Regions from separate parts of the Homo sapiens genome. Here regions 2 and 3 are each linked to region 1. The links come from fine-mapping of genetic effects on gene expression. A gene starts in region 1. Each other region holds a variant in brackets. All regions are shown on one strand. Distances are from middle to middle. Region 1 holds the start of ITIH4 (inter-alpha-trypsin inhibitor heavy chain 4). Region 2 overlaps CACNA1D (calcium voltage-gated channel subunit alpha1 D). Region 3 overlaps STAB1 (stabilin 1).

Region 1 (2,758 bases):
TTCCCAAGGCAGCTGGCCCCCTCAGGGCTGGTGTCACGGAGCCGCCGTCCTTCCCTGATCCAGGACTTGGCATCTGGCCACACTTTTATGACTCATCTTTACCCATCTGTGGCCACAGACTCAGGAGCTGGCTTCCCCAGAGCCACCAGGGAACACGAGCCCCAGCGGTGCCCAGAGCGCATAATATGTACTCACTCGATCCCACTTTACAAGGAGCAGAGCGCTTCAACTTTAGCAAGGCCGGGACCCACCCCAGGCCTTTGGGCAGCGCTCCCCTGGGTCTGGGCTGTGGCAGCATCACACTGCTCATGACAACAGCATTCTGCCCTCTCTCAACCAGCGATTCCTGGGCTCCCTCTGCTCCACCAAATGACTCCCCAGTCACCCCTCAGGAGCTGCTGGCACTGTCAGGTCTGTCTTCTGTTCCATGCTCTTCTGTCAATAAACTCCCCGCATGGAGACCTCTGTGCCACAGGATGTGGCAGGTTTATGACTCAGTTGTATTGCCATTCTTGTTTTGGGGGCCTTGCTGGGGTTGAACCTAAAGCCCTGGCTAGATTAATGGCACCCAAACAGCAACCTGGGACCCCAGGAGAGAGAAGGAGGCGCCCCGTGCCCAGCACCTCTCACTTCAGAAATACGGCGTATCTATCCTGACTCTAGATCTGCCCCACACAGACACCTCCCAGAGTCACTCCATGCCTTTGGGCCCTCCCATCAGCCAGACACACTTACCTGGTGGCCAAGCCCCCTTCTTCCGGGAAGCCGCTAGGGTAGCCCTGTAGCCCTAGTCTTCCCCACCATCCCCCGCTGTTTCTCCCCGGGCTGGACTTAGGGAGAGCAGACTGACATCTTCACTGTCAATTCCCTCCCAGCCCTGTGGAGCTTGGTGGAATGCCTGGTGTGAAGGGTCCTGGTGAAGGTTTCGCACTTTTCAGAAGGGGCATGTACCCCCACTCCAAACTGAGCCTACCTTTCTTTGGTATACATTCCTGCCCCCAGCCAAGGTCCATGGGACGTTCGTCATTTGCTTATCTGAGGTCACTGTGGTTTTTGGCTTGTAGATCCCAATTTCCCAGAACCTGCCCCCATGTGGGTGGGGCAGCAAACAAGTTACTAATCCATTCCCCACTTGCTGTCGAGTTCAGAAGCCTCCTGGCAGACACTGGAGCCACGATGAAGCCCCCAAGGCCTGTCCGTACCTGCAGCAAAGTTCTCGTCCTGCTTTCACTGCTGGCCATCCACCAGACTACTACTGCCGAAAAGGTAGCCAGTGTCCATGGGTGTGGCGTGAGCTGGGGGATGAGAGAACGCCTGGGAAGTGGGGAAGAGCCTCCGCATGTGCCAGCGTGTCAGCACAAGTGCGTGTGCATCCCTGTGTGTGCAAAAAAATGGTGCAGACCTCCCGCCAGGCACTACCCCAAGGGCCTTACTGGTATTCTCCCACCTAATAGAGGGGATGATCCAATCATTTCCATTTTCCAAATGAGGAAATACAGTTTTACAAGCCTGGCTCTACCGCCTTTTAGTAAGTGACCTCAGGAGAATGATTTATGCTGACTATGTCTCAATTTCCTCATCTGTAAAACAGGGTAATACTAGAACCTATTCAGAGGGTGGCGGTTGTGAAAACCAAACCCATTGTATCTATAAAGTGCTTAGGACAGTGCTTGTTGTGAAAACCAAACCCATTGTATCTATGAAGTGCTTAGGACAGTGCTTGTCGCAGAGCAAATACCCAAGCACATAAACAAGCCACTTGGCACCTCTGTGCCAAACTGCATTCAGGCAGCCGCATGCAGCCGAGCAGAGTTGGTGCAGTGCGCATGAGCATGTCACACACAAGCAGGTAAGAGGTGCCCGTGTGCCCCTCCTCGGGGGACACAGACCTCAAGGCAAATGGCACCTGCTAGGGGAGTGCCCTGCGGAAGTGGGGATGAGTTGGGGAGGGTCCACTGCGGAGCAGAGAGGAAGATTCCCAACTCTCAGAGACCAGACTCTAGTCTACCTCCGAATTCTCCCAGCTCTGAGGGCTTCCTTCTAGGAGACTGGTGGGAGCTTCCCTGTTGCCACAGAGGCCAAAGTCTCCAGAAATCAAAGGACCTGGTCACTGCCCTTTTTCTGGGCAAAGCTAAGCCAGCATGCAAAGCTCCCTGACCCCACCAGGTCTCTCACCCCTGCCCAAAGGCTGAGTGTGATGCCCCTCCCAGACACTGGCCCTGGCTTCACCAGCTCCACCCCCTGCATGCTTGTTCTTCTCCAAGGGGTGCTCTGGGCCCCTATAGATCAAGAAGGACGTGGCCCCTGCCCTGTGGTGCTGTAGGGTGGGGAATGAAGCACACTGCTATCTCTTACCTGAGACAAATGTTCACATATGAGATGCCTCACTGGGTTCAGCCTGAGGCCTGGTCAGTGGCTCAGTCAGATTGGGAGCCAGGGTTTGGTCTAGAGCCAGAGTCAGGGCCAACTCTTGAAGAGCGTCACCCCGAGCTGAGGTGGCATTGAAACCCTGCAACCCCCTTCTTCTTTGCTGGTCCAGAATGGCATCGACATCTACAGCCTCACCGTGGACTCCAGGGTCTCATCCCGATTTGCCCACACGGTCGTCACCAGCCGAGTGGTCAATAGGGCCAATACTGTGCAGGAGGCCACCTTCCAGATGGAGCTGCCCAAGAAAGCCTTCATCACCAACTTCTCCATGTAGGTGCCTTCCCACCCTCCTCCCCTCTCCACACCCCCCAGTGCTATGACTCCATCG
Region 2 (2,758 bases), 970 kb before region 1:
GCACTTAAACCAACACAATTAAAGCCATATAAAGTCATTCCATTAACATCACAGCAGAAATATGGTTTTGAAGAAACACAGAGTTGCTATAAAATATAAACATTATTGACTTATTTTAAGATGTCCAATCTTATAAAATATTAAACAGAATCAAGCCTAGTTTCTGGTTGATTTTAAAATGCTAGATGTTATCATAAATAATTTTTAGAAAAGAAATGTTGGCGCTTTGCCTGTAGACTGCTGCTTAAAATTTTAGACACCATTTAGTTGGAATTTCATAGATATTCTATTGAATGATTAAGTTACCAAAAAAAACTAAAATGTCTCAAAACACTTCTGAATAGCATAATATGATGACATTTTGACATCAAATATGAACACCCATTTACCTTTCTTTCTCCTGCCCACTTTTAGGGTTAAGTTTCTCCTGCCTAGATGCATTTGCAATGCTTTTGCTGCCTGTGTCCCTAAGCTAGCTCCATCAGACACACCAGCCATCTGCCAGCCCTCACAGCGCCACAGCAAGCATGCACAAGTGCCCAGAGCCCCGCCCTGGACCTACGCTGTAGCAGTGGAGATAAGAGATGCATGTCTCTAGTCGGGACTGGGCCAGGCCATTCATCTTCAGGATACAAGCGCCAGGCTTTGAGACTCCAGCCAAAGAACCCTGCCTGGCAGAGCCTGTTCCCCATCACAGGCAGGCTGCACTCAGCCTAGGCTGGCCCTGCACACAGTCGTCTCGCTGGTGACAAGTTCTGGTTAACCCTTTAGCAGGATTCAGTCTATACCCAATGAGAGGGGACCTTTTTAGACTAGTTCCATTAGAAAACAGAATGAGATTAAGTTCTTATGGAATAAACCTGCTCATCTGCAAGCTGCCGTCCGCCTCCTCAGCACATCACACGTGGGCACACCCCTTATTTTGTCACCACTCTCCTCCAGGGATAATGTGATGGCAGCCTTTGTGTCCATTGTGAATGGTCCTTGTGTCAGATATAAAGGGTTGGGATCCTGGCGCTCTGTTAGTCATCCACAGTGATTCCAACCCTCACTGAAAAGTCAGGGGTAACATGACCCCCAC[A/G]AGCTCCCCTAGGGGTTGCGCTATTCCCATCACTTGGAAAGATAAAGGAAACTTTAAAGAAATTATCTAAAATATGACCTTTGCCTGCACACAATCTGAGAGCTCTCCGTTTCAGTTCCACCTTGATTCTTGGTGCAATCAGGAATCTGATTCGTTGTAATTTTAACAACCGAATCAAAAAAAGTCTTGCCAGTTTCCTGATAATAGAGCATTCTGTAAAGTTTAGGCTTAGCAGAAGCTGTAAAACACAACTTCTGTTCTGATAGCATCTTTATACCAGTCATTGTGAGCTTACATACAAATATTCCACTAGATTCTGGGAGGAAGGGAGAGCCAAAGTTATTCCCATGTGGTTAAATTATGTGCCCAAATGAGTCAAAGGCTCAGTGAGGACTCTTGGCCCCTAAGCCTGTTCTTCCTGTGACACTGGGCTGCCTTACCTCTCCCAAACTCCCCACCTCAACCACCACCCAGGCAAAGTCACTGCACCTACTGGGAAAGAACGCTGGATTGGAGTCTGAATCACACACTTACTCACCTATAGTCACGACTGTGGGGTGCCACCTGATCAAGGCTAACCCTCTTTTGACTACCCTAGCAGAGCTCTTATATTCCTAAGTCAGCATGGAGATGACAAATGATCAAAAGTTATCCCTGAAACGGATCCTGTTTGGCACACATCCTTGGTCCCAGTTGTGCACTTAGGGGAGCTGATTTTTAAAAACACTTTCTATCCTGCCCTGATTCAGACCATCACACCTGCAGATCAGCACAGGCCGCAAGACTCGGCCATGCTAGACGAATGGGGACACAGGCAGCTCCATGCCTCCGGGGAGTGGGCTGAGACTGGGAAGGGGCTGGAGGGGGAGAAGGGCTCCAGTTAGGGCAGTGCCACTGCACAGGAGCCTCTTTAACAAGGGAGATGATTAAAAGGCTCCAGCACCCTCTGCCTTTAGGGGGACCTAGTAGCATTCCCCCAAAGCAGTTCTCAGGTGTGTTCTGGGGACCTTGGGGCATCCCAAGACACTGTCAGGGGTCCATGAGGTCACTGTGATTTGCATAACATAAGGATGTTCTTTGCCTTCAACACTCTCATCCTCTCATGAGAGCACAGTGAGGTTTTCAAAGGCTGCCTGATGCATGATGTCATCACCCTGGCGTCTTTGTGCTTGCATGTTCTTGTTTTAAAAACTGCTCCGTTTTAATTTCTAAGACAGTAAATATTGACACACAAGGGTCTTCAATAATGTAGAGTATAAAAGGGTCCGAAGACCAAAAAGTTTGATAACTGCTGATCAATCTATCCTCCAACAGGCACTACTACTTTTTCCTCAGGTGTAGACTTTTTTACCCCATCTAGGATTCCCACTCTTCTGTGGACCTTTCTCCACTCTTGGAAGAAATGGCCTTCCTATGGCTTCCCTGAGCCAGCCTTTGGGACGTCTGAATGGGTTGCCTTCACCATGCCTTAGAATTATGTGCCCTTCCAAGATCTCAAACAGCTGTGTCCCTTAGGTCTAAGAGGTGCCAAGGAGAATGAACTCACCTGGGTTTCTACCCACCCTAGAACTGTTAGTAAGTCTTAGCCAGCTCCTTCGCACAGATCATCTAATCATGACACAATTGGGCTGCCAAAGGACACTAGGTGAATGGTACTAAATAACAAGCCACGATAAT
Region 3 (2,758 bases), 330 kb after region 1:
CTCTCCCCACTTTACAAGTGGGGAAACTGAGGCTACCAGAAGGCCTGTGACTTGCCCAGGGTCCCATAGCCAGTGTTTGGGTGCACTGTGGGGACAGTTCCGGCCTGGGACCCTGGCTCACCTGGCCCGGCTTCTGGTACACACACAAAGTAGAGTTGCTGGGGCAGCCACCAAGGTTGTCAGTGCATGGGTCCTTGGGCAGACACACCATCCCATCGCCATGGTAGTTCTCAGGGCAGTGACACTGAGCCTGCCCCTTGGGGCTCACCGAGCACTGGGCCAGCAGTGAGCAGGGTGATGGCCAGCAGGGGTTGGGGGCTGCCAGGGCAGAGAGAGAGCCCAAGTGAGCCAAGCACCCAGGAGCCCTGTCTCCGCCACAGCTTTCACCAGGAAGGCCGGGGCCAGCAGGTTGACCTAGGCCTTGAGGATAGGCTCCCCTTAGGAATGGCTCTCCCTCCTTGTGAATTACATTGCACTTGCTGGGTTAAAGGATGCTCTCCCAGCCCCCGCCCGCCCTGAGCTGAAGTCCCTGGCCTCTGAGTCCAGGCTCACCTCGGCATTCACTGCCCTGCTGTGTGTAGCCGGGCAGGCACCTGCAGCTGGGAGCCTCTGCGGAGCACTGGGTGTTCTGGGGACAGCGCAGCTCCTGGCAGACGGGCAGCTCTGCGCAGAGTGGAGAGAGCACTGATGAGCCCAAGCCCAGGCTGGGGAGGAACACAGGGGCAAAGGGGCCTTGCCTGTTCTGTGTGACTTGGAGCAGGGCCCTGACCTTGCTGGGCCTCTGGACAGTGGAGGTCTCAGATGACACCCCTTCCCCAACTAGGCTCCAGGCGGAGGTCCTGCTGAGGCTCAGGCCCCATCCTCACCCAGTCGGCCTCTTTTGCTCTGGCCACAGGGACCTGCTGCCCTAGGCTATCCCAGTGGCGCTGCTCACCTTGATCACAGTGGGGGCCAGTGTATCCAGCAAAGCACAGGCAGCTTCCATCCCCACGTGGCCCATGGTTGCACACTCCGTGCACACAGCTGCACACTGGGAGGGACACACAGAGACAGATGGGGCCCCAGCCTCTCCCAGGCACACACTGGGACATCGGGTCCCTGCTCTCTGTATTTTTAGAACTCAGCTCGGGCAGGTACAACCTTAAGAGTACAGAGCTGTGATGCGGGACCACAGGGGTGGTGGGAGACCACAGAAGGCACTGGCCCGGCCTGGGGCTCACAGAGGGCTTCCTGGAGAAGGCCTCTCAGGGGAGTAGCATGTGCAAAGGGCTGGAGGTGTGATAAAACAAAGCACATGTTCCTGAAAGGGATGTGCAAATCTGAGGGGCTGGGACAGAGGCTGAAGGGACAGGTGGGAGCTGGTTGTAGG[T/G]ACTGCATCTGCGTGGGCCCCCAGGTGGACGCTGGCCGTGCCCTCTTGCCTTTTAAGCACTCACCCGATTGGCAGTCAGGCCCGAACCGGTTGGGGTCTTGGCACTCCTGGCAGGCTGAGCCGCGGAAGTTTTCCTGGTGGTGGATGCACCAAGTCAGCGTGGCCCCTCTGAGCCTCCACCCCACCTTGCCCAGCCCTTACCTGGCACACACAGGTCCCATTCCTGTCCATGCCATCCAAGCAGGTCCCGTGGCCATTGCATGGGGTCTCAGCGCCCCCAGGGCATTCTGTGGACCCCCACAGTACTCAGCTCTGTGCCCAGAACCCTCCGCTTACCCTGACCCCAGCAGCTCTGGCCAACCCCAGACTCGGCCCCTCCCCCAAGGAAGCAAGAGCAAGGGGGCCGAGCCTTGGAGGCGCTCGGTGAGTATTAATTAAACAAACAAGTTGAAGGGGAATGCAGGTGGCTCCTGCAGAGGGCTTGCCCAGAGCTGGGGCTGGGTGGGAGGCGCAAGGCGGGGTCCCCCTTTCTCCCATACCATGGCACCGGGAACCCCAGTAGCCAGGGCAGCAGGCCTTCTGCACCACTTGCTTCCGGCACTTCCGTCTGCAGCCGCTCATGGACACCATAGAGCCCCCCAGCTGTACTTCGTAGCTGGGGGCAGAGGGTGGGCAGGGTGATGGAAAAGGCTCCCTTGCACAGCCCCCACCCAGCCTCCCCACATTGGCTTCCGGGGCTCCCACCCACCTCCCTGCTCTGCCTGGCCCAGAGCTGAGCACAGGGCCTAGCACATAGCAGGTGCCCCATAAACCCCTCCTGCCCCTCGCCTTTACCCCTTCCTCCCCGCCTATCTCCACCACCCAGGTGGGGCCACAGGGGCATGGATAAGTGAGTGCTTCTCCTCATTTTGTGGGCCTGTCAGGCTCCCCGAGTCCCTGCCACCCCACAGGATGCTCCTGGACACAGGCAAGGACAGGGGTGGCCCGCACCGGCAGTCCTGGGTTATCTGATCCGGGAGCTCCCGCAGCCAGCCTGAGGGACACGTCTGCTTCTTGATGGCCGCGCACGAGGTGCAGGGTACATGAGTGACAAACGTGGTTTTCACATCACAGCCTTTGAACAGCACCTGGGGCCACAGGCAGGGTGTGGTCAGGGGCCTGGACCCCACGCCCAGTCCTGACCCTGTCCTCAGTGCTGCAAGGGCTCACACCCCTCCAGCTGCCACTTCCCATCTGCTCAGGGGTCAGAGTAAGCAGAGGGTTCTGGGCACAGAGCTGAGTTCTTTGGGGGTCCACAGAATGCCCTGGGGGCGCTCAGTGGGAATGCAGTGCAGATGGGGAAGGCCCTGTGAAACCTGTCTGTTACAAGTTGTTAATGTCACATCGAGT

The links. PIP is the estimated chance that this variant, and not a neighbour inherited with it, causes the effect.
Region 2: its variant is fine-mapped to the expression of ITIH4 in amygdala (GTEx, PIP 0.96).
Region 3: its variant is fine-mapped to the expression of ITIH4 in prostate (GTEx, PIP above 0.99).

What each region holds. Positions count from the first base shown.
Region 1 is chr3:52,829,061-52,831,818 of GRCh38, reverse strand. ITIH4 (inter-alpha-trypsin inhibitor heavy chain 4) reads left to right here and starts at 1,147. Exons shown (of 24, transcript NM_002218.5): 1 at 1,147-1,266; 2 at 2,540-2,700. The coding sequence starts at 1,177.
Region 2 is chr3:53,794,205-53,796,962 of GRCh38, reverse strand. The region is part of intron 40 of CACNA1D (calcium voltage-gated channel subunit alpha1 D); the gene reads right to left. Among named protein-coding and RNA genes, the nearest start is that of CHDH, 51 kb to the left of the region's middle. The variant A/G (reference allele first, on the strand shown) is at 1,082.
Region 3 is chr3:52,500,904-52,503,661 of GRCh38, reverse strand. It overlaps STAB1 (stabilin 1), which reads right to left. Exons shown (of 69, transcript NM_015136.3): 2 at 2,360-2,496; 3 at 1,909-2,024; 4 at 1,571-1,656; 5 at 1,434-1,503; 6 at 935-1,030; 7 at 553-663; 8 at 122-318. Among named protein-coding and RNA genes, the nearest start is that of STAB1, 6.9 kb to the right of the region's middle. The variant T/G (reference allele first, on the strand shown) is at 1,370.